3 linked regions of the Homo sapiens genome follow. The protein of the gene in region 1 purifies or fractionates together with the protein of each later gene. This does not show direct contact. Each region holds a gene or a part of one and is shown on either strand. Other genes may lie near its edges. The genes, in order: CYB5B, FLVCR1 and CSE1L.

Region 1 (4,146 bases):
TATGTTTCAAAGGTAATTATAAAAACGGTTTATTTCCCTTGTTTTATTAACACAGTCACTAAACTTCAATCTCAGTGTTTAATTTTCCCCAACAGTTTAGCTATTTCCAAGAAAAACAATCATTTGAAGACTGGCATTGCAGATAACAAAACAGTATTACCTGGTACTGGCTTCTCTGTCAGTAGGTATTTTCAGTGGAAACAGAACCTCAAACCTGGCTACCCCGTTCCCACTTCACAGCCATTAAAACACAGCCTTGCTTTTTGCATTTCACGATTATCAAATGAACGATTCACTTCACGAAAAGAACAGTGAGGAGAATCCTGGAGAACCACGGAACTCCCCACCACGTTATGCTAAACACACCATTAGCACAGACACGGGAGACTGTCATGCTTCTGAAATCCTTTTCTTCCAGAACACCTGAGGATTACAAAACCAACACTTCTACTTAAAAAACACCTTTTTAAATTAAAAATAATAAGTGTAGTCGGGGCAAGAAAAGGAAAACAGTGTCTTTATTGTGTGTAGTTCTAACAAACGTTCACTGTGTGCGCATTCCAGCAGAAAGAGACAAAGATCTTTGTTCAAAATATTCTGAAAAAGGTAAACTAACTGCATTATTGAATACACAAAAGGAATGTTACCGTTACTTGTTCATAGTCAAAGGTGAAGTTAAAAAAAAAGGGAAGTTAAATAACTGAAGTAATGGTTTGCCCAAATAGCAAACGTAGGATACAAGCGTGGGCAAAGAGCAGCTACTGAAGCTCATGAGGAGGATGCTGGATATAGGGTAGGTAACTTGACAAATGCCTCTGCTTCTTTGGAACCTTCTTCCTAGATCACCCCCACAAATTCCAAACCTGGCTCTTTCAGAGCACAACAGCCAAATGTAACTAAACTCCTCATTACTTCTGTGATATTTGGCAACAGAATAAGATAGTTTAAAAAAAAATCAATTTCTTGTTGAGACAAGACATGTCTGAATCCATTTCTCTTGGGGTAGGAGGAGGTAATGAACATTAACGTTCTGCATCTCAATCTCCTAAAATGGAATTTAACCAGATAGATATCGCTTGAGATTTTAAAGCAGGAGATACCATAAGTAATGATACTCCAGGCCTGTAAAGCATTTTTCATTGTCCCACATTGCAGCTAAATGAGTATAAACTCGACAGTGTTCTGATTTCACAACATATGCATTTATGACAACTGCTAAAACAACTTTACAGGCTCAAACGATAGGTTCCAAGGGATTTTTGTTTTTGCTTAAGCAGTCTTGAAGAGATCTAAACACAAGATAAACTTTGACCCCACCACTCTGTTATCTTTACAAATGCAGAAGTCATTTGGAAACCAAAACCAATTGCTGAGTAGGGGCTGAGGAATTTTGGTGTCATTTCAAACTAGACTCTACTGAGGCAGGTTTAAACCCTGGCTCTCAGGCCAGGGGCAGTGGTACCAACACCCTCTATTTCGGTAGCATGAAACTTCTCTCACCTCCTCCTTCGTGTCCAGCAGCCATGATGTGTACAGTACAGTTTGCAGCAGCAGCAGCAGCAGCAGCTAGTCTTCCTCAGGAATAAACAACCGAACACCCCAGAGACCAGCTCCAGGTGGCACTGTCAGCCAATGGGGACTGGCTCCACTTGCTCTCCAGAGGGTTTTTCACCAGCTACCCATGTCAAGACTGTTTTGTGAATTCAAGTCTACTTCCTAAAAAAAAGGTCCTTTTGGATGGATTTGGCTAGTGTGCTATACTACTTTATTGTATAGAAAAACCTCTGCAAACTCTCACACAAGATTTAGCTTTCACCTGGCTGTTTTTGTAGGCAACAAAATAACAGTAAATGGACCCCAAAGTGATTTTCCAGATACAAAGTGACATCACATCGGCAGTAGTTCAGAAGAAGCCCTGGGTACTGGGGGATTTCATGGGTGGAAGAGACAAAGTCTAATTATCTTTTCCTCTGGCTCTCAGCAAAAAACAAGTGCAGATGTAAACAGGAAAAGAAAACCAATGTGAAGTAGAAAAACATACCTTTTGCATTGGCATTTACCTTAAAAATAACAAAAACACCAATTTTACTTAAGATGGTAGTTCTTTAACATTTCTTATAAGCCAGATGTTTTTCATTCAATTTCGGACATTGCCAACACACTTTTACAACTGATTCAAGTTATCTTCAGGCTTGGCTTTAGTTTGAATGTTCCCTTTCAAGCTCCTCAATACTCCTCTGTTCTTTACTTTTACCCCAATGTACTCCAATAATCACGCAATTTATTTATTACAGGCAATCATATACCAATCCTTCCTTGCCTTTAAATAGAGAAGCATCAAGTCATACCACTTTTGTTAAATAATAACCAAAGTTTTTTTCAATATTGTCTTAAAAGTAGCATCTTATAATGCATACAAACATTTTTCTAAAGATAAAAGCTTTACTAAACCCATATCCCTGATAATAAAAGTCAGCCAGAAATCTCCTAAAATTACTCCCAAATATATCCAAGTGTGCAAGTACAAGGTTAATATTATTTTGATGAATTCTGTATTCATTCAACTGCTAAATCACAGGATACAAGACCTGGGTTGAACTTTTTCTTAAATAGTTTACATGGGCAGTCCCTGGTTTGCTGGGCAGTTTCCTGTCTCATCAAATCCCTGGCAAGCTGGGAGGGAGGGAGGAGATGCTGAGCAGCCTCTATGGTCCTTCTTGAACCAAGCTGCTCCCTGCTGGATATGACAATGGCTCAGAAGCAGACTAGCAATTCTCAAAGGACAGGGAGAAAAATCACCACAGTTGCTGGCAGAAAACAGCCAGTGTACTATTTATTTCCTCAAGTGCTTCCATGGGGGAAAAAATAAAAGTCTAATATGCCAGAGAAATCATCATTGAACCAATAAGACACAGTAACATAATTCTAGTAACCTACTTCTCAATGAACACACATCTGAGAAAAAAACCGCCAGTATTTTATTCTCATGGAAAAACAGAACAAACCCACAAGTTGGAGTCACGGAGATAAAATACAGATGAAATGGAAAACGGTCTGTTGTCATGAACTCTCACTTTCAAATACCATTTTATATGGAAGTTACTTTACTGCGGGGCAAACAGAAGGCCATGCTGGAGTCTCTTACTTTTGGAAAATGGAGAATCAAAAATTTGCTAATCAACAAACAAAAAAGGAGGGAAACTCCTTGGTAAAGCTCTACAAACATAATTATACATTTATATTTTACCAATAAAAGATAGCTAGGGTAGAAAAAACAGATGGTTAGAAACTGGTGCCAAACCAAAGTGAAAGCTTTGGTGCCTTCTCTAAACTCCTATCCTGTTTCTTTAGAAAACACCAGTTTTCTAAAGAAAGATTACTCTGAATTCACCAGGGTTCTATCACCCCAATTCATCCCTACCTTTCCACCCCCAAGACACGAAAGGGCCATGTAGTTTTTTGTCCGGCACCACTTGGGAAGGGGCTGGGCTCAGGGGCTGGGAAGAGCTACCTGCTGCCCTAGCTTGAAAGGGAGGAGGTGGCCACACCATTCTTTGTATTTTTATCACGCACATAAAAGAACAAAAATCATTTGGCAGTTTTAAGTTTAATAGGTGCAAACCTTTACTTCAGGAATTAAACCCCTTATGATAAATAAAAGAATTAAATCAGATTTTTTTTTAATACAGATAGGGGTCTCGCTATGTTGCCCAGGCTGGTCTTGAACTCTTGGCCTCAAGCGATCTTCCCACCTTGGCCTCCCAAAGTGCCAGGATTACAGGCCTGAGCCACCACACCTAGCCCTAAATCAGAATTTTTTAAAAAAAATTTACTTAAAAGAAAAATGGAAAAATAAAACTTTCAACACTAGACTGCCGCCCTGTTAAGAATGTCTAATATGCAATCAAAGTATTGGAAAGCAGGCATTTTTACCAAAGAGCAATGTCACTATAACTTATGAACAGAAAGTTGTGAAATATAAGGGTACTCATGGAAACCAGTGAAGAGAGGAAACACCGGCAATTGTTCAACACGGAACAGTGAGCAGGTACTTTGGGAGTAAGGCTCTGAGAGATGGAAGACGCTGGTCTCAGATCTGAGGTGATGTCTGGCCAATCGTCTTGGCTCCAAGGGGGAAGAATGCAA
Region 2 (11,933 bases), on another chromosome or scaffold:
AGTTGAGACTACAGGGACGCACTACTATGCCCAGCTAATTTTTTGTATTTTTAGTAGAAATGGGGTTTTGCCATGTTGCCCAGGCTGGTCTCAAACTCCTGACCTCATGTGATCCATCCACCTTGGCCTCCCAAAGTGCTGGGATTACAGGCATGAGCCACCACACCCGGCCAAATTTTTTTTTTTTGAGGTTGCACTATTTGGAGAAAAGATGATTCCTTACTATCCCAACTGTTGCTGTTTGCTCTCTGAAACTTAGATACCATACTCTAGGTTCAGATAACATAGTATTTTTTTTTTTTGGCTGTTATAATTCTTCATCCAAATTTTTGCTATCCTTATTTCAGTATGTATTAGATTCAAAATCACCATAGGGTGCAGTGCAGTAGAGTACACTCAGGCCTGAGCACAGGCCTCATTTGTTATCCTCATCTTCCGCAGGCTAACCCAGCGTGGTCCACGTGCATTCTTGAGCTCAGTGGGAAGTTGAATAACAAAGGCCAGTTACCCAGGTGTTTTTGATAAGTGTTGTTAACAAGTTTTTAGACGAGCTATAGGTCTCATCCTTTAATCGCCAGTTTAAACAGGGATTGTAATGGAACAAACCAACTGTAAAAATTCCTGTGAGTGAAGTAAGGGCCAAGAACAGCAAAGATAATTTTGATGAAGAACATGGTGAGGGACTCATTCTTAGTTATCAAAATTTATAAATCTATGGTAATTAAGATGCCATGAGTAAGGGATAGACATCAGATCACTGGAACAGAATAGAGAGCCCAGAGACCTACCTTGGGTGTCACTTGACCTAGGCTAGCTTATATTAATCCTGCTGGCCAGGTGCAGTGGCACATGCCTGTAATTCCAGCACTTTGGTAGGACAAGGCAGGCAGATCACCTGAGGTCAGGAATTCAAGACCAGTGTGGCCAACATGGTGAAACCCGGTCTCTAATAAAAATACAAAAATTAGCCAGGTGTGTTGGTGGGCACCTGTAATCCCAGCTACTCAGGAGGCTGAGGCAGGAGAATCACTTGAGCCTGGCAGATGGAGGTTGCAGTGAGCCGAAACTGCTATTTCACTCCATCCTGAGCAACAGAGTGAGACTCTTTATTAAAAAAAAAAAAAAAAAAGAAGTCCTGCTAAAAAACTTCAGTGGCCTGAAACATGAAAAGTTTATTTCTTGCTAAAACTGCATGTCCAGTGTGAATTGACAGCTAGTTTCTGCTCATCAAAGTTACTCAAGGATACAGCCTGACATCTCTGTAAATGCTTCCATGATTACTAAGGCAGAAAACAGGGAATGTCACCTTTGCTTATATTTAAAGTCATGTTGCCATGCCTAGAAAAATAAAAACTAGAATATTTGCAAACTGCTCTAATAACTAGTACATTATACATATAGGAAAACTTGAGGTTTTGCAGAAGAGGAACTGTTTGGTAAATTGTCCCAGGATAATTGATTGTCCATATGGGAAAAATAAACTAAAATTAGAACTCTACATCATACCATGCATAAAAATGAATTATAGTAGAGACCAAAGAGTAAAAATAAGAACTTTAAAGTTTTAGGAACAAATATAGGAGACCATCTTTAGTATTCCCAAAGAATTTCTTTGTCTTTTTTTTTTTTTTTTTTGAGACAGAGTCTCACTCTGTCGAATTTCTTTTTTTTTGAGACAGAGTCTCGCTCTGTCACCCAGGCTGGAGTGCAGTGGCACAATCTCGGCTCACTGCAACCTCCACCTCCCGGATTCAAGCAATTCTCCTGCCTCAACCTCCCCAGTAGCTGGGACTACAGGCGCACACCACTGCGCCTGGCTAATTTTTGTATTTTTAGTAGAGACGGGGTTTCACCATGTTGGCCAGACTGGTCACGAACTCCTTGGCCAGACTGGTGTCGAACTCCTGACCTCGTGATCCACCTGCCTCAGCCTCCCAAAGTGTTGGGATTACACGCGTGAGCCACTGCGCCCAGCCAAGAATTTCTTAATGCAAAAAACATAAACCCTAAAGAAGTATATTGATAAATATGATTATATTAAAATAATCTTTTCTAGGAAGACATTATTGAAAAAGGGAAAAGACAGGACTTAGACTATGAGAAAATTGTCTGCAATGCATATAACCAACAAAGGATTAGTATTAGTTAAAAATAACTCCTACAAATCAGAAAGAGCAAACAATCCAAGGACACCAGAAGACATTTGTGTGTCTGTGTCTGTGTGTATTGTTCTTATGTGATATTCAGCCTTAACAGTAATCAAGGAAATACAAATCAAAGCCAGAGTAAGATGTAATATCACACACATTCACATTGGCAAAATAATTTAAAATCTGGTGAAAACAAATTTGGCAAGGATGTGGAGCAGTAGGAACTCTGCTGGTAGTATGAACGGATAACAACTACTTTGAAGAGCAAATTGCTTATATCTAGAAAGTAGAAGGTCTACTCTAGATATATACTTAGAGAAGCTCTTATGTATAAGAACAAAAACATAATACTCATTGCAGTCTTGTTTTAAACAGTGAAAAACTAAAAAAGAAACCCTTAAGTGTCTATTGACAGGACGAGATAATTAAATTGAAGTATATTAACATAATAGAATACTGTACAACAGAAAACTAATGAACTACAACAAAAAATATCAACATGGATACATCTCAAAACCATCTCAATATAGTGTAACAAGAGCAAGTTGCAGATGGATACAAATAATATTTATATACTTACAGAATACTTCTAATTGTTTATGAATATGCATATATGGTAATATATAAAATGATAAGCACCAAGCTCAAGCTAGGGCTTGACTTTGGTAAAGAATAGGATTGGGAAAAGTCTGAAAAATGAATCTGAAGCAAAGATGGAAAAATGTTAATGTTTGCCAAATCCGGGTGATATATGAGGATATTTGTTGTATTCTCTATGCTATTTTATATTCTTAAAATATTTAATAATAGATAAATAATAAACTTAAGTTTTAGCTTAATTTAGGTTAAGAGTCTTACCTAAATTCATACAATACATGCTAGGAGACATCAGGATTCAAACCTATCCTGTGCTTCTCATAGCCAGTTGTTTTTATTGTTCACTTCTAAAGTATCCTTTGGGAGGCGAGGCAGTAGAATTGCTTGAACCCAGGAGACGGAGGTTGTAGTGAGCTGAGATTGCACCACTACTCTCCAGCCTGGGCAACAGAGCAAGGCTCCATCTCAAAAAAAAAAGTATTAACTGATTTTGTCTTATGAATTTTCAGTAAGTCTTTGATACAAAAAGGTAAGATCTCTGAAGCACAGTTTCTGTTAGGCTTTGCACATTTGTTGGCTGTAGTAGTACATTGTAGGAATTCAGTAAACAATCCATTGCTTGACTGGTTGCCATATATGTGTTGCATGTGGGGGTATGATTTATGGTCAGTATATCTCAATCTAAATAATAATAGTATTAGGACAGAGTTCTGCTATTACATCTTTAGTACAGTTAGGTGTTAAATTCATTAGTCCAGGTTCTGAAAGGGAATGACAATGGTTTTTAATTTCCTTTATCAACTGTGTTAAGAAATGTATTTCCACAATTGTCACATAATATTCCATGTCACTTCATGAACTGGTAAATGACACACTTTTAGTATTCTCTTTATTATTGTAGGTATCATGACTTAATATCATCTTTATTTATTATTGTAGGTATCATGACTGGTGCCTTTTATTCAGTCTCAACGTTATTAAATCAAATGATATTGACATATTATGAGGTAAGCTTCTGCTTATATCAGATTGCATGCCTGGCCAAAAATTTTTCTTTAGCAATATAATTGTCGTTAGCAGGGTCATGAGATTAAGGGTTATGACATTGTTGCTATCAAATATTTACATTTGTTTTAATTGAGAATATATTTGTTAAAAAATGAAATTTCCACAACTTTATATATCTAATTGGCTTTTATTATCAATTCGTTTATTGGACAGCATCCCATCTAAAGATTTAGAAAGGTACTGATGAGCTGAGCAGAGGAGATGGGCTTTATAGGCAGAAAAAGGCTGAAGAAAGCAGAAACAAGGAACAAAGAGCAGATTGGTTGCTACAAAGTTACTTTCCTTATAGGAGTAAAACAAAGGGGACTGGGCCCCATCTGATAGGTTGCTATGAATCTCCTTTTTTTTTTTTTTTTGGAAAAGTGGCCCATTTTAAAGTTCAGTTTGATTATGTGACACCTAGCACTAGTGACACCATTCTATGTGGTCTGGTCTGTTGGGCCTACTGTGGGAGCTCACTCCAAAACAATGGCCTCCCATCATTTTAATTTAACATATTTAATCCAGTTTATAAAGCACATAGTATGGCCAGGCATAGTGGCTCACGCCTGTAATCCCAGCACTTTGGAAGGCCGAGGCGGGTGGATCACCTGAGGTCGAGACCAGCCTGACCGACATGGAGAAACCCTGTCTCTACCAAAAATACAAAATTAGCTGGGCATGGTGGCGCATGCCTGTAATTCCAGCTATTCGGGAGGCTGAGGCAGGAGAAACACTTGAGCCTGGGAGGTGGAGGTGGCGGTGAGCCGAGATCGTGCCATTGTATTCCATCCTGGGCAATAAGAGTGAATCCCCATTTAAAAAAAAAACAGGCTGGGCGCCGTGGCTCACACCTGTAATCCCAGCCAAGATAGCGCCACTGTACTCCAGCCTAGTGACAGAGTGAGACTCCATCTCAAAAAAACGAAACAAAACAAAATACACACACACACAATATGGAAAGCAGAAGTTACTATCCCTGTGACAATACCTAAGTTTATTTTTAGGAAATAATATGATTGGTTATATGGAAAAAGACAAAACATTTTAAGGGAACTCAGCATAAATATAGATAAATAAATATCAAGTTTTGATTGACGTATCTGCTTTTGAAAGGATAAAGCAGTTGTACTATGTAAAAGCTATCGATTAACCTCCTTTTCAGATATCTATACAGTGTCATACCTTGCTTAGTGACAGGAATACCTTCTGAGAAATTCGCTAGGCAATTTCATTGTTGTGTGAATATCATAGAGTGTACTTACGCAAACCTGATGGTAGAGCCTGCTACATACCTAGGCTACGTGGTATAGCCTATTGCTCCTAGGCTACAAACCTGTATAACATGTTATGCTACTGAATGTTGTAGGCAGTTGTAATACAATGGTAAGTATTGTGTATCTAAATATATCTAAACAGAGAAGGTAGAATAAAAATACAGTATTATAATCTTACAGGATCATACTGTATATATGATTCAGAGTTGACCTAAATGTAATTATGGAGCACATGACTATCTATACTTAAGAATCCTAACAAAAATCATTGTACTTCTAACCATAGAGGATTAAGGAAAATTTACCTTTTTTATTTCTTCTATTATTTTAGGCTTTTTTTCTGGTTTTAAAATATAATGCTTTTATATATTCTTTACCTGCCCTCCCCTCCCACACTGACACATGTACTAAATCTTCCTACTGTGTGCTTAGTTTTATCTAATTATTTTCATTGACTATGAAAAGGTGTGGGAATGTGAAGAGTCTGAATTAGTTAATCCATTTATTTGATCAACTTCTTACGCAAATTTTTTTCAGGGAGAAGAAGTCAATGCTGGAAGGATTGGGCTAACGCTAGTAGTAGCTGGAATGGTGGGCTCTATTCTTTGTGGCTTATGGCTGGATTATACTAAAACATACAAGTAAGTGAAAGTAAATACATGTATGGTGTATAACCAAAGGTATTTTGATTTTAAAGGACAATTTGCTTTTTATTTCAAGAAATTTAAAACATGTTATTACTTAAAGATACGGATTCTAAACACTAGTAGGTTCTCTTCACTTAACAAGTGTTTCTTTTTTTTTTTTTTTTTTGAGACGGAGTCTCGTTCTGTCGCCCAGGCTAGAGTGCAGTGGCGCAATCTCGGCTCACTGCAACCTCTGTCTCCCGGCTTCACGCCATTTTCCTGCCTCAGCCTCCCGAGTAGCTGGGACTACAGGCACCCGCCACCATGTCCGGCTAATTTTTTTATATTTTTAGTAGAGACGGGGTTTCACCTTGTTAGCCAGGATGGTCTCGATCTCCTGACCTTGTGATCCACCCGCCTCGACCTCCCAAAGTGCTGGGATTACAGGCGTGAGCCACCGCGCCCAGCAACAAGTGTTTCAATACTCTATGTATTGTATTATTTTATTGGTCACATTTATTTCAATTCTGAGAACTTGGATACCTTATGAGCCCCTTCTTTCTAACAGTACTCATACCTACCACTTCCGAAGGAATTATTTCTATTCTAAAAAGAGCCATTTCTGAGAAATATTTGACTTTTGATAGACTTTATCTTGTTCTTTTTTTTTTTTTTTTTTAGGTGGGGTCTCACTCTGTCACCCAGGCTGGAGTGCAGTGGCACCATCTTGGCTCACTGCAACTTCTGCTTTCCAGGCTCAAGTGATTCTCCCACCTCAGCCTCCTGAGTAGCTGTGACCACAGGTGTGCGCCACCACACCCGGCTAATTTTTTGACTTTTTGATAGAGACAGTGTTTCACCATGTTGCCCAGGCTGATTTTGAACTCCTGAGGTCAGGCAATCTGCCCACCTCAGCCTCCCAAAGTGCTGGGATTACAGGCATGAGCCACTGCACCTGGCCTATGTTGTTCTTTTTTTATGTTGTGGGCTTAAATACAAAAACAAAAAAGTAGTTCTTTCCAATCAAAAAATTATTGTTGAGCATAAGGCTTTATTTTGGTAAGAACTTTTTGGCTAAAGTACGCCCAGACTACAGTACCACTTAACTGTAATATAATGCATAATGTGAAAATGCTGGTTTGACACAATGTCTTATGCCTGTAATCCCAGCATTTTGGGAGGCCAAGGCGGGTAGATTGCTTGAGGCCAGGAGTTCGAGACCAGCTTGGGCAACATGGTGAAACGCCATCTCTACTGAAAATACAAAAAATAGTCAAGTGTGGTGGTGGGCACCTGTAATCCCAGCTACTCAGGAGGCTAAGGAAGGAGAATTGCTTGAACCCAGGAGGCAGAGGTTGCAGCGAGCTGAGATAGCGTGCCACTGGTCTCCAGCCTGGGTGACAGAGCAAGACGCTGTCTAAAAAAATAAAAAAAAAAGAATATACTCTGTTAATTGTACATTATATGGAACCACCAAAAGGCTAATACCAAAGAAAATGAATGATACCAACTGGGAGACTAAGAAAGGGGTTTCAGAGGCAGCATATTTTGCTCTGGGAGTGAAAAGAATCACCACATTTTGTAACATGCCAAAACTTACCCCTGTACTTGGAAATGAATGAATGAAACTATTAAGGAATAAATGAATGAAATATGGAACTGTGTCCCGTGTACCTTTCAAGGCTCAAGATATATTTGATATTATTAGTCTAAACGCTACCAAAAGTATCTCTAATCTTGAAATTCTCCATATTCTTCCATAATTTAAGACAGCACTTGCCTTAGCTTCATTATTTTAAAATGATAGCTTAGAGTGAAACCTACTTGATATATAGATGAAGGGAGCATATGTAAAGGATTATATTTCTTAAGTCTTTCATCCGTTATACATTTAGAAAACTTGATAGGCATAGATGTGTGTTCTTTGCCACTGTGGCTTCCTTCTCAGGGTAACTGCCATTCATTCACCAAACTCCTGTTGTGTGCATCTTTCTTAGATGAAAATTATGGCTGGCATTATGTGATCCCTGTTCTTAAGATGTTTGTGGTCTAAATGGAGCAAATAAGGCATTCACATGTGAAAAGTTAAATAATATAACAAACTAAAATAGATGTCATAAGTTTTATAGTGCCAGTATGATAAGGGAATTTGGAAGAAAGAGAGACTCTTATAAACTGGTGTCGTTACAGAAGGCATTTGGAAGAGGTAGAATTTGATCTGAATCTTGAAATGTGAATAGGGAACTATCCCATTTGGTGGCATAAAAATGATTTTATTCCTATAAAAGGATCCTATCTGAGCATTCGATATGGTGTGGTTTTCTGGTGCTGCTGAATCTTAAATTAAAAATGCTTTAAAATTTGTGCTTTGGTGGATACATATTTCCATGGACAAGAAGGGGTGAACTTTGAAAAACAAAGATTCATTACTGAACAGGTAAGAGTGATGATTTTTGTATTCCTAGGAGAATCAGACAAAATACTAACAGCTTTGTTGTTTTTGTTTTAGACAGACTACTCTGATAGTTTATATTTTGTCTTTTATTGGAATGGTTATCTTTACTTTCACATTGGACCTTAGATATATTATCATCGTGTTTGTTACTGGAGGGGTGCTTGGGTAAGTATCAGATGTGTTTAGGAGGAATGATAGCATGCTGTTATAATTCTGAAGTATTATTACTCTGGTCTTTAATTTTTTCAGTTCATCCAAAGTTTCTTCAATATTTTAAACTTTAAAGGATTCATTCTATGCATATAAACATGTAATTCTTAAGAACTATTAAAAATTATTTAAAATTGGTTTTTGGTATACCATAGGTAAAAAATGGATGAGCCTTACTTAATCTGTGTAACTTTATTTGGTTACAATCAACTTATAAAACTAGAAGTAAATTTTTCTCAGAAAAAAATGTGTATTTGTTGCTTCCAGTTCTGTAACCTTGAGCTGATTGGTCAATGATAATAGTTCCTTACTTTGACATAGCAACTTCAAAATATTCACTTATTTGGTCATTAGAATAAGCCCGAGAGGCAGAATGATTGCATCAGTATGTGATTGTGACTTTCTGGTAGTTCTTTCTGTAATTCTGGATTTATTTTCCTAGCTTCTTCATGACTGGTTACCTCCCTTTGGGTTTTGAATTTGCTGTTGAAATCACTTACCCTGAATCTGAAGGTACTTCATCTGGTCTTCTTAATGCTTCTGCACAGGTAAACCTCTGATTTCTCTAAACCTGAGATGATTATTATACCAGATATTCTAGTGAGTAATGAGTTTGACCATGGTTTTATTTGTTGTTGTTGTTGTTTTGTTTTTTGGAGACAGAGTCTTGCTCAGCCATCCAAGCTGGAGTGCAGTAGTGCAGTCATGGCTAACTATAGCCTCAAACTCCTAGGCTCAAGCAATCCTCCCCCCTCTGCCTCCAGAGTTTTTGGGACTGCAGGTGCACACCAGCATGCCCAGCTAAATTTTTTTTGTTATTTTTTGTAGAGATGGTGTTTTGCCATGTTGTCCAGGCTGGTCTCGGACTCCTGGGCTCAAGCAATTCGCCTACCTCAACTCCCAAAGTGCTAGGATTACAGTGGGTGTGAGCCACTGCACCCAGCCTGACCGTGGTTTTTGTTTTAACAATTCAACTTTTCAATGAATGTTTCTAGAAACCAAATCATATAACCAAAATAAGAAAAGTTCTGGTGAAAACTTTATACTTGCTTTAAATAATTTAACTTAATAACGAATGATTTTTCTTATTGTATTTTAGATATTTGGAATTTTGTTCACATTGGCTCAAGGAAAGCTCACATCAGACTATGGTCCTAAGGCAGGGAACATTTTTCTCTGTGTCTGGATGTTTATAGGCATCATATTAACAGGTAAATTAGGGCGTTTGCCTGGCAAAAGGACTTGTGTCATGTGTTAATTTTCATATATATTGCTTCTCAATAGCTTGACAGAACTCAAGGGGAAAAAAATGAGATAAAAAGCAGGACATTATTTGTTTTCTTCTAAAGACATGAATCTCTTACTTCATTTTGCAGATTTCAAATTCAATACAGTTACTCTGCATAGCAAGCAAAACTGTTATAATAAGAGTAGTAAAGGCTGGGTGTGTTGGCTCATGCCTGTAATCCCAGCACTTTGGGAGGCAGAGGCGGGCAGATTACTTGAGGTGAGGAGTTTGAGACCAGCCTAGCCAACATGGCGAAACCCCGTCTCTACTAAAATTAGCCAGTTGTGGTGGCGCACACGTGTAGCCCCAGCTACTTGGGAGGCTGAGGCAGGAAAATTGCTTGAACCCAGGAGACAGAGGTTGCAGTGAGCCAAGATCACACGAGTGCACTCTAGCTTGGGCAACAGCGAGACTCTGTCTCAAAAAAAAAAAAAAAAAAGAGTAGTAAAGACCTGGAGTTGGGAAGACCTGGCCTCAAATTCCGATTCTGTTGCTCAGTGGGAGTGTGACTTTAGACCCGTTGCTTAACCTCTCAAATCCTCCTTTCCTTATTTATATAATAGAGTGTTAAAGCCTGCTTTATAGGGTTACTGTGAGGATTAATTGAAATGGTTCATGAAAAGTTCCTAGTGTCTGGCACCTGGGACGTGCCTAACATGTGTTACTATTGTTATAATGTGGTAGAGATGGTAAGCAGTCAAGTGGTAGTGGTGGAAATAGTATGTGGAATCCTTAGCTAGTGCTTATACTTCTTAGGTATAGTCATCATAGACATGGGCAGGAAAGAAAATAGTGCTCAATCTCCAGAGAAAGAGAATGTCAGAGAATTTTTATCCATAGTTTGCCCATGCACATGGGTGTACAATAGATTTGGAAGCAGAACTTTTTCCAGGTGCATACTTTTAAAATGTCATCATTCCCTAAACATTATAGTATAACAGCTATTTACATTGTATTAGGTATTAGTAATCTAGAGATGGTTTAAGTACATAGGAGGATGTGTGTACGTTATATGTAAATACTTCCCAGGGGCGTCCAATCTTTTGGCTTCTCTGGACCACATTGGAACAAGAAATATCTTGGGCCACACATGAAATACTCTAATACTAATGATAGCTAATGAGCTAAAAAAAAAAAATTGCAAAAAATCTCATAATGTTTTTTAAAAATTTGTGAGTTTGTGTTAGGCCACATTCAAAACTGTCCTGGGCCACATATGGGCTGCAGACCACAGGTTGAACAAGCTTATACTACACCATTTCATATAAAGGCCTTGAGCATTCGTGGATTTTGGTATCTGAGGTGGGGTCTTGGAATCAATCCCCCGCAGATACCAAGGGAGGTTGTGCTTCGTTGATCTGGTTATAACTTAGTTGGAGGATCTGGTTATAACTTAGTTGGAGAATCTATCAGAAGGATGTGAATCAGAATTTCTTCTACTGTTTGTGGAATACCTGATCATTCTTTGTGAAACCTTCAATATGAAATCTCACCAGTGATAGACATTTTGGATATACACAACTACCTAAGGTCGCTCACTCAATTGTATGAATGATAGGAACCTGAGCATTCATTCACGAAGCTAAAAGAAAGTGAATGCACTCTGTTTCCTCAAAGAAAAACATCTTATCACAGGGAGTTTTTCCCCCTGTCCAGTTAGTAAAATAAAACATACAAAACTGTGAAATATGTAATACATTAACTGCTTTAACTATTGTTCTTTCATAAGTAATTCCATGTTGGTTCTTAATTCCTAGGCAAGTACTATATCTTATCTAAGATTATTACTATTGGCTGGACGTGGTGGCTCATACTTGTATTCCTAGCACTTTGGGAGGCTGATACAGGTGGATCATTTGATGTCAGGAGTTCAAGACCAGCCTGACCAACATAGTGAAACCGTGTCTCTACTAAAAATACAAAAAACTTTAGCCAGTTTTATGGGCACACACCTGTAATCTCAGCTACTTGGGAGGCTGAGGCAGAAGAATTGCTTGAATCTGGGAGGCTGAGGCAGAAGAATTGCTTGAATCCGGGAGGCGGAGGTTGCAGTGAGTGGTGAAGATCACACCACCACTCCAGCCTGGGTGACAAAGTGAGACTCCGTCTCAAAAAAAAAAACAGTATTATTGTTATACCAAAGAAGGGAGCAGTTTTGTAATCCTCCTTCAAATTACTTTTACAAGAGATTCATGAATACTAATTCAAACAAATCAAGTCTAGAAAATTAAGAAGTGAAAATAGATCTTTAAAATTAGTTTTACATTGATGCTTTTACCATCT
Region 3 (11,933 bases), on another chromosome or scaffold:
GAATAAAACAATATGATGATTACTGAAATAATCCTCACAAATCTTAAAACTCCAGGCCATATTTATGTATACATACATATACAATGGAGGTATTCCAGGTGCTCCCTGCCCAGTCAGTCCCTTTCTCTCTATAGGTAATTACTGTAGTGAATTCGGTGTATTTGACACCCATGGAAGTGCTTTTCTTACGCTTTCACTACGCATTTATGTTTCTGCAAAAATTATTTAGTATTATGTAGGTTTTAATTTTTTTTTTTTAGATGGAGTCTTGCTCTGTTGCCCAGGTTCAAGCCATGCTTTTTTTATACTTTCACTATGTGTTTATGTTTCTGCAGAAATTATTTAGTATGCTGTAGGTTTTAATTTTTTTTTAGATGGAGTCTTGCTCTGTTACCCAGGTTCAAGCCATTCTCCTGCCTCAGCCTCCCAAGTAGCTGGGACTGCAGGTGCCCACCACCACGCCCAGCAATTTTTTGGTAGAGACAGGGTTTTGCCATCTTGGCCAGGCTGGTCTTGAACTCCTGACCTCAGGTGATCCACCCGCCTTGGCCTCCCAAAGTGCTGGGATTACAGTCGTGATTCACCACGCCTGGCCTAGGTTTTAAATTTTTGTTTGTATAAATGACATCATACTATGGGTTTCATTTTTCTGTTTTTTGTTACTTGTTTGTTTTGAGACGGAGTCTTCGCTCTGTCGCTCAGTGCAGTAACACAATCAAGTCATGCAGTGGCACGATCTTGGCTCACTGCAAGCTTCACCTCCTGGGTTCATGCCATTCTCCTGCCTCAGCCTCGCGATAGCTGGGACTACAGGCTACCGCCACCATGCCCGGCTAATTTTTTTTGTATTTTTTAGTAGAGACGGGGTTTCACTGTGTTAGCCAGGATGGTCTCGATCTCCTGACGTTGTGATCCGCCCGCCTTGGCCTCCCAAAGTGCTGGGATTACAGGCATGAGCCACCGTGCCTGGCCTTTTCTGTTTTATTTTGAGAATGAGGTCTTGCTCTGTTGCCCAGGCTGGAGTGCAGTGGTGCGATCATAGCTTACTTCAGCCAGGAAATTCTGGACTCAAGCGATCCTCCTGCCTTAGCCTCCCTAGTTGATGGGATTACGGGCATGCTCCACCGTACCCACCTACATCATGACTGTTTGTCCTTAACATCTTTTTTTTTTTCTTTTTTCTTTTTTTTTTCTGAGATGGAGTCTTGCTCTGTTGCCCACGCTGGAGTGCAGTGGTGCAGTCTCAGCTCACTGCAACCTCCGCCTCCTGGGTTGAAGCCATTCTTCTGCCTCAGCCTCCCGAGTAGCTGGGACTACAGGCGCATGCCACCACGTCTGGCTAATTTTTTGTATTTTTAGTAGAGGTTTCACCATGTTAGCCAGGATGGTCTTGATCTCATGACCTCGTGATCTACCCACCTCGGCCTCCCAAAGTGCTGGGATTACAGGCGTGAGCCGCCACTGCGCCCGGCCTAACATCATTTTTGAGTTATTCATTTAGTGCCTAAAGCGATCCAGCTACCTCAGCCTCTCAAGTTGCTGGGACTACAGGAATTCACTACCATGCCCAGCTAATTTTTTATTTAATTTTTTCTTAATAGAGATGAGGTCTCACTATGTTGCCCAGGCTGGTCTTGAGCTCCTGGGCTTAAGCAATTGTTCTACCTTGGCTTCCTGAAGTATTGGGATTATAGACAGGAATGAACCACCACACCCAGGAGGCTTTTCTAGTTTAGACTAATGAATGTTTCAAATTTAGAGGTTTTTAATGAAGATTGTTCTCGTATTTGTTGCTTTTTGGGGGTGGGAAGAGAACAAAAAATGAGACACAAAAAGGTTAAATAACTTTTTCAAGAAATATCTGCTAGTGATGATTCTTAAGTTTGGTGAAATCTTAGTCTCCTTCTCTGTGATATTATTATTTTATGGTATGTTGATTTATCTGCAAGATGTTATCCTCATAGTTTTGTGCTCTGAAAAGGAGAATTTAGAAAGTGGAAATTGAACCATTATGTGCAAGTGAAAGTTTTGGTTTCTGGGCAGCAGCATCTCCTATTATAACAGAGCTTAAAAATAGCAAATTGTTCTTTAAATCAACAGGTCCTTCTCTTCCAATTGTCTTTTACTCAAATATGGAATCATTGCATTTAGAGCATGTATATTATTGTGTTTTTTAGGTGCCAAAAGAACATCTTTTAGTCTCGATTCCTCTCTTGATTAATCATCTTCAAGCTGAAAGTATTGTTGTTCATACTTACGCAGCTCATGCTCTTGAACGGCTCTTTACTATGCGAGGGCCTAACAATGCCACTCTGTGAGTATTTTATTCTAAAGTTTTTTAGCCTGGGGTAGGGGCTGTACTGTGCTGGTCAAAGATATCTGAATGTTTTCATAATTTCACTAGTGGGAAAACAAATGTCTGCTTTCTATTCCTTTATACTCTGTTTCATTCTAAAAGCATTTGAGGCTGCTTACTAAAATAGGTGCATTATGACAATACAATTTAATAAACTGGAGCCAAGGAAAGTAACTGAGATAAAGTTAATAAACAGAAATGTGTGTCAAAGGATCCTATATAGTAGTCCAAGAAACTCCAAATTTTATTTGGAGTCTCTTAGCAGCCAGGGCAAAGAGGGAAACTTGGGAAGTTAAAATTTTCACAGGGTCTATGAGATAAAAGTTAAAGCAGAGAATACTGTACAATAGTAGTAGTAGTGTTCTCAGCAACAATCATGTAACAGTTATTTTCATGTGGCTATTTGCGTAAGGTCACTTATTTCTGAGATATGACCTAACCGAATGAAAGTAATTCACTGGGGACCAAGAAAATAGGTCTTCTGGCCTGAACCAGGATGAAATGTAGAGGAATGGATGGTCTGCATGTCTTTCAGGCCACTATTCAACAGTATTATTTCTTGAAATGAGCTTTGGGTAAGAGATGGAAAACAGTTCTAGGTTCTTTCCTTCATCAAGAACTTGAAGTACAGATACTCTCAGTGGCCAATTAAGGGTAGAAAGGACATCCTTTGAGGTGAGTCAAGCCAGTACCTATCTTCAGGCCCAGAATTTATGCAGAAAACAGTTCTGAATCTTGGCTCCACCTCCAAAAACAAAATAAATGACAGAGTCCCCTGAGATTCTGAGTTCTTTCTCAGTGGTAATAGATATAAACCAGGGACAACTGTTTCAACTTCAGATGTTGTTGGGTTTAGCTGGCTTTTTGGTTCAGTTGTGTTTGGTTCTCGATGTGCCTTCTTAGGAGCCTAACATGAGCACATGTAAAAAAATTATTTTCCTAAACTGTCTATCAATTGTCAGTGGTGGGAGATGGCTCAGTTTTATGCTGAGAAGGGTGACATAGTGGTTGCCAAGGGTAATCTGCAGTGACAAGCTCAAGAGTTGGTAGTGACTGAAAGCTGTTTTTTCATCTATAGCTTTACAGCTGCAGAAATCGCACCGTTTGTTGAGATTCTGCTAACAAACCTTTTCAAAGCTCTCACACTTCCTGGCTCTTCAGAAAATGAATATATTATGAAAGGTAGGCTGTTTCCCTGGTGTGCAGACTACAGGTATCCAATCTCAGATTGTAAGGGTGAGCACTCTGAGTTATACTTCAGGTTATACAGTCTATGAACCAGATAATGTTTACCAAGTAGTAAGTTAGTTTAGATATTTCAAAATGAAAAACATTATCTTGTTTACTACTAACAATAATTTTTTTTTTTTTTTTTTTTTTTTTTTGAGATGGAGCCTTGCTCTGTTGCCCAGGCTGAAGTGCAGTGGCTTGATCTCAGCTCACTGCCACCTCTCCCTCCTGGGTTCAAGCGATTCTCCTGCCTCAGCCTCCCGAGTAACTGGGATTACAGGTGCACTCCACCATGCCCGGTTAATTTTTGTATTTTTAGTAGAGACAGGGTTTTGCCATATTGGCCAGGCTGGTCTCAAACTCCTGACCTCAAATATCTGCCCGCCTCAGCCTCCCAAAGTGCTGGGATTAGAGGCCACTGCACCTGGCCAACAGTAATCTTAATTTGATATGGAACTTCTCATTACAGAAAATGTAGCAAAGCCCTTTTTTCCTTCCCTAGATTGAGTTTCTTTAAGGCAAAGAAGAGATCATGCAACGTTTATTAACTGCATGCTCACCTAGGTAGGGGTGAAATGTGGGTGCCTGTGGTAGACTCTGCACAAATCGTGTCTTCTTACGTACTGCCAAGGACACAGGCAGCTGTATCCATCCACAGGCTGGTGTATCCATCCACCAGGCACTACATTAGTTGAGTGTCCTGGTGCCAGCTCTGAATTTAGAGATAGTCTCAGTGTTTTTCACTGTTGCATCCCAAAAGCCTAGCACATTGGGTTGTAGGAAGCACTTTTCAGAGAAACTCCCTGATCTTTTCAGTCTGGATCAGAAATCCTAGAGTGGATGTGTGTATCTGGGTGTATGTTTCCAACACTATCCTTCCCCCAACAATGATGTATAATTGTGTAATTATTGTTGTTTAATGTCCTTTTTTTTTTTTTTTTTTTTTTTGAGATGGAGTTTCACTCTTGTTGCCCAGGCTGGAGTGCAATGGCACAATCTCAGCTCACTGCAGCCTCACTCTCCTGGGTTCAAGCGATTCGCCTGCCTCAGCCTCCCGAGTAGCTAGGATTACAGGCGTGTGCTACCATGCCCAGCTAATTTTGTATTTTTAGTAGAGACAGGGTTTCTGCATGTTGGTCAGGCTGGTCTTGAACTCCCGACCTCAGGTGATCCACCCGCCTCAGCCTCCCAAAGTGCTGGGATTACAGGTGTGAGCCACTGCGCCCAGCCTTAATGTCCATTTCTATGAGAGCGGCTAACTAGTCTGTAATCTTCATTACTGTGTTTTTAGGGTATGTAAGAATACACAGTATGTAATACCTTCTCTGTACGGTTGTATGAGTGAATGAAATAATTCTGCGCCAGCCTAGTGGAGGAGCACCAATTTATCCTCTAGCCCTTTTAACCCAGGTCAGGGAAGGATTTTCTCTAGGAAGTGATCTCTAAGCTGAGATATGACCTAACCGAACGTTAGGTGTGAGGGATAGGTAGCAATCTGTTGAAGGGTGGATGAGTCTTTGACTCCAGTAGAGGAGGAAACATGATGTGCAGAGTTCAGGAGGCAAGAGCAGATAGCTTTCTGTCCTTTATGCTTGGCATGTATTTGGGGCTCTGCTTAGTAAACATTTATTTTAGAAATGTTATTTGTGGAAAGAGAGCTTTTATACATTTTTAGCTGACAAATTTATTTTTCTCCCATGCTTCCTATTTTTAACCCATTTATGGTCTTTTGAGCAATATTTTTGCAATTTGGACTCTGTGGCTTTACATGTATTTTTAGAATTTTTTTAGGCTCCTAATCTCTTTTTTTGAGGGAGGTGGATAGGCAGTTTTCTCTTCAGTTTCCTGTAGTTTGTGATCATGTTTCCTTTAGGCTAGGGCTAAACATTTTCTGATGCTGGTTTCTTTTTCTTTTTCTTTTTTTTTTTTTTTTTTGAGAGAGAGAGGGAGTCTCGCTCTGTCTCCCAGGCTGGAGTGCAGTGGCATGATCTTGGCTCACTGCAACCTCCACTTCCCAGGTTCAAGCGATTCTCAAGCCTCAGCCTCCCGAGTAGCTGGGACTACAGACGTGCACCACATACCTGGCTAATTTTGCTATTTTTAATGGAGATGGGTTTTGCCATGTTAGCCAGGTTGGTCTCAGACTCTAGCCTCAAGTGATCCGCCAGCCTCGGCCTCCCAAAGTGCTGGGGTTACAGGTGTGAGCCACCAAGCATGGCCTCTGCTACTGATTTCTAAGAGAAAGAGACCCCAAACAGTTCTCTCTCAGACTCACCTGCTCCATTCATGTCAGCTCACTGTTTCTTCCTCTTAGTCAACCTCTTTAATTATTTTTTAAACCTTGAGCCTTCTAGAAATACTCAGTATTTCCCAGCTAAATTTTGTTGCCAACCCGTCCTAATTTTAAAAGGAAGGGAAATTTAGATTATTTTTAAATGTAGAGAGCTATCTCGGGGTTGTCTAAGCATCTTAAAATTTAGTTGATGAATTAGTGCGCTTTTTTCCCCCCAGTCGCTCTCTTATTCTGAAGTTTAACTAAACTCTATTTGTTTTTGCTGTTTTTGTATTTTACAGCTATCATGAGAAGTTTTTCTCTCCTACAAGAAGCCATAATCCCCTACATCCCTACTCTCATCACTCAGCTTACACAGAAGCTATTAGCTGTTAGTAAGGTAATAGAGCCAATTTTGAAAGTGGGGTTCCTTTTTTATTTGCTCCAAACTGTTTGGGCCTCAGAACTCTTTGGCATTACGTGAAGCTTTAGAGAAGGTCTGTGAATTCTTCCTGACCAGCCACTAATGGACTTTTCTGAAAGTGTGGGCATGCTGTTAGATTGGAGACGTAATAGCAGTCACCTTTAAGTGTGTGCTAGAAGCTTGAATACATTTTCATTCTCATTACAAAAGTAACATGTTTATTGTAGAAAAAGAAAGTGCAGATGATCCAAAATTACCTTAAATGGAGTTAAGTAGGCTTTGCACTAAATGGATATAAAAGAGGCTGTCTGGACTTCTATGAAATGATGATTAAAATCCTTTGTGTTGTCTTTTCTTCCTTACTCTTATTTCTCAAAAGGAAAGTTCACTCTGATCAAAATTTTACAGATACTTAGATTCATGTTTATTAACACTAAATTTTAGAAAATAAATCCGTTTAAGGCTGACAGAATTCCTTTTTAGATGCTATTCTTGATCTTATGAGAATTAGATCAATTCATAGGAAGTGTTGGAGGGATTTTGGAGAACAGAGTGATTATTATTCAACTGAGTTAGGGCTAAGGGTCTTTGGACTACTTAGGGCCTTGAGGGATGGAGCGGGGAGGGAACCCAAGTCTCCGCCTCCCATATGTATTACCATCTCATGTTCTGATTGAGTTAGATTTGTATGCTAGTAGCCTTCCAAGAACTTGTTTAAAGAAAAATGGGGTTTTGTTGCTTAAAAAGAACATAAAAAACTACTCATTTGGGGGATTATCAGTAAGTAGACATAGACATTGAGGCCCACAGAAGTTAAGGCTAGTGGCATTACTAGGACTTAGTATTTCTTCTCTGCGAGGGCACGTGGGCTTAAGACAAGTTACAGCTCTGGGATCTGAGGTTTGTATAAGCAACTCTGTAACTCTGAAGTATTTTTTTCATGGTGGACTTTGGGCCATTTAAAAAAAAATTCAAATGAACAAGCACTAGGGTATAATTGGTGTTTTTTTCTTAATTTTGATTTTTAAAAAATAAGATGGCCTCTATTTTAAATGTGTTTTATAAAGGTTAGGTGTGGATTATTAGCATAATTAGGTTTTTTTTTTTTAATTTCAGAACCCAAGCAAACCTCACTTTAATCACTACATGTTTGAAGCAATATGTTTATCCATAAGAATAACTTGCAAAGCTAACCCTGCTGCTGTTGTAAATTTTGAGGAGGCTTTGTTTTTGGTGTTTACTGAAATCTTACAAAATGATGTGCAAGGTAAGTTAACGGAAATTATTTTCTTTGTAATGGAATAAAATTAACATGGCTATAAAATGCAGCCCACCTAAGCGATGTGGGCCTTTTGTGTCAGTCATTCCTTCTGAAGCTCACAGCTCTGTTTTTACTTTTATCAACAGAATTTATTCCATACGTCTTTCAAGTGATGTCTTTGCTTCTGGAAACACACAAAAATGACATCCCGTCTTCCTATATGGCCTTATTTCCTCATCTCCTTCAGCCAGTGCTTTGGGAAAGAACAGGAAATATTCCTGCTCTAGTGAGGCTTCTTCAAGCATTCTTAGAACGCGGTTCAAACACAATAGCAAGTGCTGCAGCTGACAAAATTGTGCGTCAGGTTTTGATATAACTGTAATTTTATAAAGTAGCTTGGAGAAACTGGGGATGGCAGATGTTTGAAATTTTTTTATTTAAAATAAATTTAAGGCTGGGGGCAGTGGCTCAAGCCCACCACTTTGGGAGCCTCTAGTGGGAGGATCCCTTGAGCCGAGGAGTTTAAGACCAGCCTAGGCAACGTGGTGAGATCTATCTCTACAAAGGAAAAAAAAGCTTTTTAATTAGTTGGACACAGTGGAGCATGCCTGTGGTCCCATCTACTTGGGAGGCTAAGGTGAGAGGGTCGCTTGAGCCCAGGAGTTTAAGGCTGCAGTGAGCCATGATCTCACCATTGCACTCCATCCTGGGCAACAGAGCTAGACCCTGTCTCTTAAAAAAAATAATAATAATAATAACGGAAATAATTAGTAGAAAATGTTATGGTATGTTTTATCAGAATTCTGTATCCTTTAGTTATTTATATCCATGATGGAAAATTTTAAAAACAGAGCCAAACAGGTTGATTTTAAGAACTTAACTTTGGTCGGGCGTGGTGGCTCACACCTGTAATCTCAGCACTTTGGGAGGCCGAGGTGGGCAGATCACCTGAGGTCAGGAGTTCAAGACCAGCCTGGCCAACATGGCGAAACCCCGTCTCTACTAAAAATAAAAATTAGGTGGGTGTGGTGGCACGTGCCTGTAATCCCAGCTACTCAGAAGGCTGAGGCAGGAGAATCGCTTGAACCTGGGAAGCAGAGGTTGCAGTGAGCCAAGATCGCCCCATTGCACTCTAGCCTGGGCAACAAGAGTGAAACTCCGTCTCAAAGAAAAAAAAAATTACTTTAATGGCTACGCGGGAGGAATTGTTCCCCATATGTTTCAGAAATAATTAAAGAGAAAAGGATAGATTATTACAGTATGAACTCTGTTTTAAGACATATATCATGTTTAACTTTTCGAATAATTATTCCTGTTAACCATTTTCTGTTGGATCTCATTTCTTAACAGCCTGGGTTACTAGGTGTCTTTCAGAAGCTGATTGCATCCAAAGCAAATGACCACCAAGGTTTTTATCTTCTAAACAGTATAATAGAGCACATGCCTCCGTGAGTATGACTAGAACTTTGTGCATTTATTTAGAAATTTTGTTAGGTGCTCAGAAAAGTCCTAAATTTATATTGTTGATTTTTTTTAATTCTTTAGTGAATCAGTTGACCAATATAGGAAACAAATCTTCATTCTGCTATTCCAGAGACTTCAGAATTCCAAAACAACCAAGTTTATCAAGAGTAAGTAAAATCATCTGGATGTTCTACAGAAGTAATGAAAGAAGGTAGCTAAAACCCTTAGACTTTATGGTTGCAGATACATTTTTTATCCGTTTTAAACTTTATGCAAAAAATACTTGGCCACGTGTGGAGGTTCATGCCTGTAATCGCAGCACTTTGGGTGGCCAAGGGAGGCCGATCGCTTGAGCTCAGGAGTTCAAGACCAGCCTGGGCAACATGGCGAAACCCTGTCCCTACGAAAAGTACAACAAAATTAGCCAGGCATGGTGGCATGTGCCTGTAGTCGCAGCTGCTTGGGAGGCTGAAGTAGGAGCATCACCTAAGTCCCAGAGGTTGAGGCTGCAGTGAGCCAAGATTACACCCACTGCACTCCATCCTAGGTGACAGAGTGAGACCCTGTCTCAAAAAAAAAAAAGAAAATATTGTAAGGGCCTGGTGCAGTGGCTCTCATCTGTAATCCCAGCACTTTGGGAGGTGAAAGTGGGAGTATTCCTTGAGTCCAGGAGTTAACGACCAGCCTGGGCAACATGGTAAGACCCTGTCTCTACAAAACAGCCAAGCATGGTGGTGTGTGCCTGTAGCCCCAGCTACTCAGGAGGCTGAGGTGGGAGGATCACTTGACCCTGGGAAGTTAAGGCTGCGTGAGCTGTGATCACGCTCCTGCACCCAGCCTAGGTGATAGAGTGAAACCTTCTCACAAGAAAAAAGAAAATATTTTAAGATGTTTGTGTTCTCCAAACATTAAGTTAGTGTTAGTCATATTGTGTTCCAGAGGTTGGTTTATGGTTGGATACCAAAACATTTTTTCAGTAGAGAGAATATTATAAGGAAATATAAATCAAAGAGAGACAGCATGTAAAGGTCTATGACAGAAAGACAAGTTTTCTATTTACTAGAAGGCAGGTATTGATGCCACAGCCTTTGGATGTTAATGATTAAGCATAGGTTTATTTTGCAGACTTATCAGTTACCAGTTTAGTGCGTGAGTTCTCTATGCTGATATTCTGCATCTTCTTTCAACAGGTTTTTTAGTCTTTATTAATTTGTATTGCATAAAATATGGGGCACTAGCACTACAAGAAATATTTGATGGTATACAACCAAAGTAAGTTTGTTTTTATTATTTTTTAAAGGAAGAAAATGTTTTGACTTTTTTTTTAGTACAAATCAGTATCTCTGTCTTATAGATGATGATGTGGTTCTTGGTATGGAGATAGTGTCTATGGTTTTCAAAATATTCTTAGGTATTGGGAGTAAAGAAAAAGTAATCCTGGCCCAGCATGGTGGCTCACGCCCGTAATCCCACACTCTGAGAGGCTGAGGAGGGCGGATTTAGCTCAGGAGTTTGAGACCAGCCTGGGCAATATAGTGAGACTCCATCTCAAAAAAAGAAAAAACACCCTGGAATCATTGTTCTAATCCTCTAGATTAGAGGACCATCTACTCTACACACTGGCATTCTCCACAGCCAGTGTTCTATATTATGTTAAATGGTCAGTGTTGTCTCCAGGAGCCTGCCTTATTAAAACTAACAGCAGAAAACACCACATGTTCTCACTCATAGGTGGGAATTGAACAATGAGAACACTTGGACACAGGGCGGGGAACATCACACTCTGGGGCCTGTCGTGGGATGGGGGGCAGGGGAAGGGAGGGCAGAGGGAGGGATAGCATTAGCAGAAATACCTAATGTAAATGACGAGTTAATGGGTGCAGTAAACCAACTTGGCACATGTATACATATGTAACAAACCTGCACGTTGTGCACATGTACCCTAGAACTTAAAGTATAATTAAAAAAAAAAACCAGAATTTTCCTTCCCCCTTTTTTAAAAAATCGTGCTAATCCATATCGTTCCAATTTTAGTATATGTGCTGCTAATGCAAACACAGCAGAATTTTTCAAATGAGAAATACTTAGGACCAATAAATTAACTTTGTTTTTGACTTATCTGGTATATATGCAAAGAATGTATTTAGGTGGCATTTCCCATTAGTAGGGAATAAAACAATTATAACGATAAGATAAAGAACAACTCTTAGGGAAAATTTCTTCGGGGACAGTTAGATCCCTGTACCTCAGTTATGTCTCAAAAATTCTACATTGACTAAAAAATGAATTACTCTGGAAAGGAGACCAGAAAACATGGCTTCCGGCAGTAGGGGATTTTGAGGAAATCTCATGCACTGCTAGTGGGAGCCTGAATTAGCCTGATCTTTCTAGAGAGCAAAATGTATGCACTTTTTATCCAGAGCATTAGAATTGCCATACCCTTTGAGCCATATTTCCACTTCAAAGAATTGGTTCTATTAACGCATAAACTGAGGATTTTGCATCATTTAGAATTACGGAAAACTTCACTTCTAGCATGTTTGCAACAACATAGAATGATTGGCCGAATTATTTTAAATAGCCATTAGCATTTATGTACCTGCAGGTATGTAAGCAAAGACAGTTGGGAAGCTTATAACCCAAAAATGTTAAAACTAGTTGTTTCTGGGTGGTGGGATGATTCCTTTTTTCCCTCCTTGCTCCTCTCTCTTTTTTTTTTTTTTTTCTTTTTTTTTTTTGAGACTGGCCAGGTGTAATTTTTAAAGAAAAAAGCAGAGAGGGCCAGGAATGGTGGCTCACGCCTGTAATCCTAGCACTTTGGGAGGCTGAGGCAGGTGGATCACCTGAGGTCAGGAGTTCGAGATCAGCCTGGCCAACACAATGAAACCCCATCTCTACTAAAAATACAAAAATTTGCCGGGCGTGG

Evidence for each region.
Region 2: the proteins of CYB5B (region 1) and FLVCR1 purify together in Homo sapiens (affinity purification with mass spectrometry; 2 studies listed by BioGRID and IntAct, with this or other methods). This does not show direct contact.
Region 3: the proteins of CYB5B (region 1) and CSE1L purify together in Homo sapiens (affinity purification with mass spectrometry; 2 studies listed by BioGRID and IntAct, with this or other methods). This does not show direct contact.

Annotation. Positions count from the first base shown.
Region 1 is NC_000016.10:69,462,619-69,466,764, reverse strand, and holds the end of CYB5B (cytochrome b5 type B), read right to left. Parts: 3' UTR 501-4,146; downstream 1-500. UniProt on the Homo sapiens protein: Cytochrome b5 is a membrane-bound hemoprotein functioning as an electron carrier for several membrane-bound oxygenases.
Region 2 is NC_000001.11:212,879,685-212,891,617, forward strand, and holds part of FLVCR1 (choline/ethanolamine transporter FLVCR1), read left to right. Parts: intron 1-3,686; coding exon 3,687-3,754; intron 3,755-5,608; coding exon 5,609-5,712; intron 5,713-8,206; coding exon 8,207-8,317; intron 8,318-8,804; coding exon 8,805-8,910; intron 8,911-9,461; coding exon 9,462-9,573; intron 9,574-11,933.
Region 3 is NC_000020.11:49,081,849-49,093,781, forward strand, and holds part of CSE1L (exportin-2), read left to right. Parts: intron 1-2,177; coding exon 2,178-2,314; intron 2,315-3,434; coding exon 3,435-3,538; intron 3,539-6,160; coding exon 6,161-6,258; intron 6,259-7,398; coding exon 7,399-7,549; intron 7,550-7,689; coding exon 7,690-7,898; intron 7,899-8,893; coding exon 8,894-8,991; intron 8,992-9,088; coding exon 9,089-9,174; intron 9,175-10,197; coding exon 10,198-10,279; intron 10,280-11,933. UniProt on the Homo sapiens protein: Export receptor for importin-alpha. Mediates importin-alpha re-export from the nucleus to the cytoplasm after import substrates (cargos) have been released into the nucleoplasm.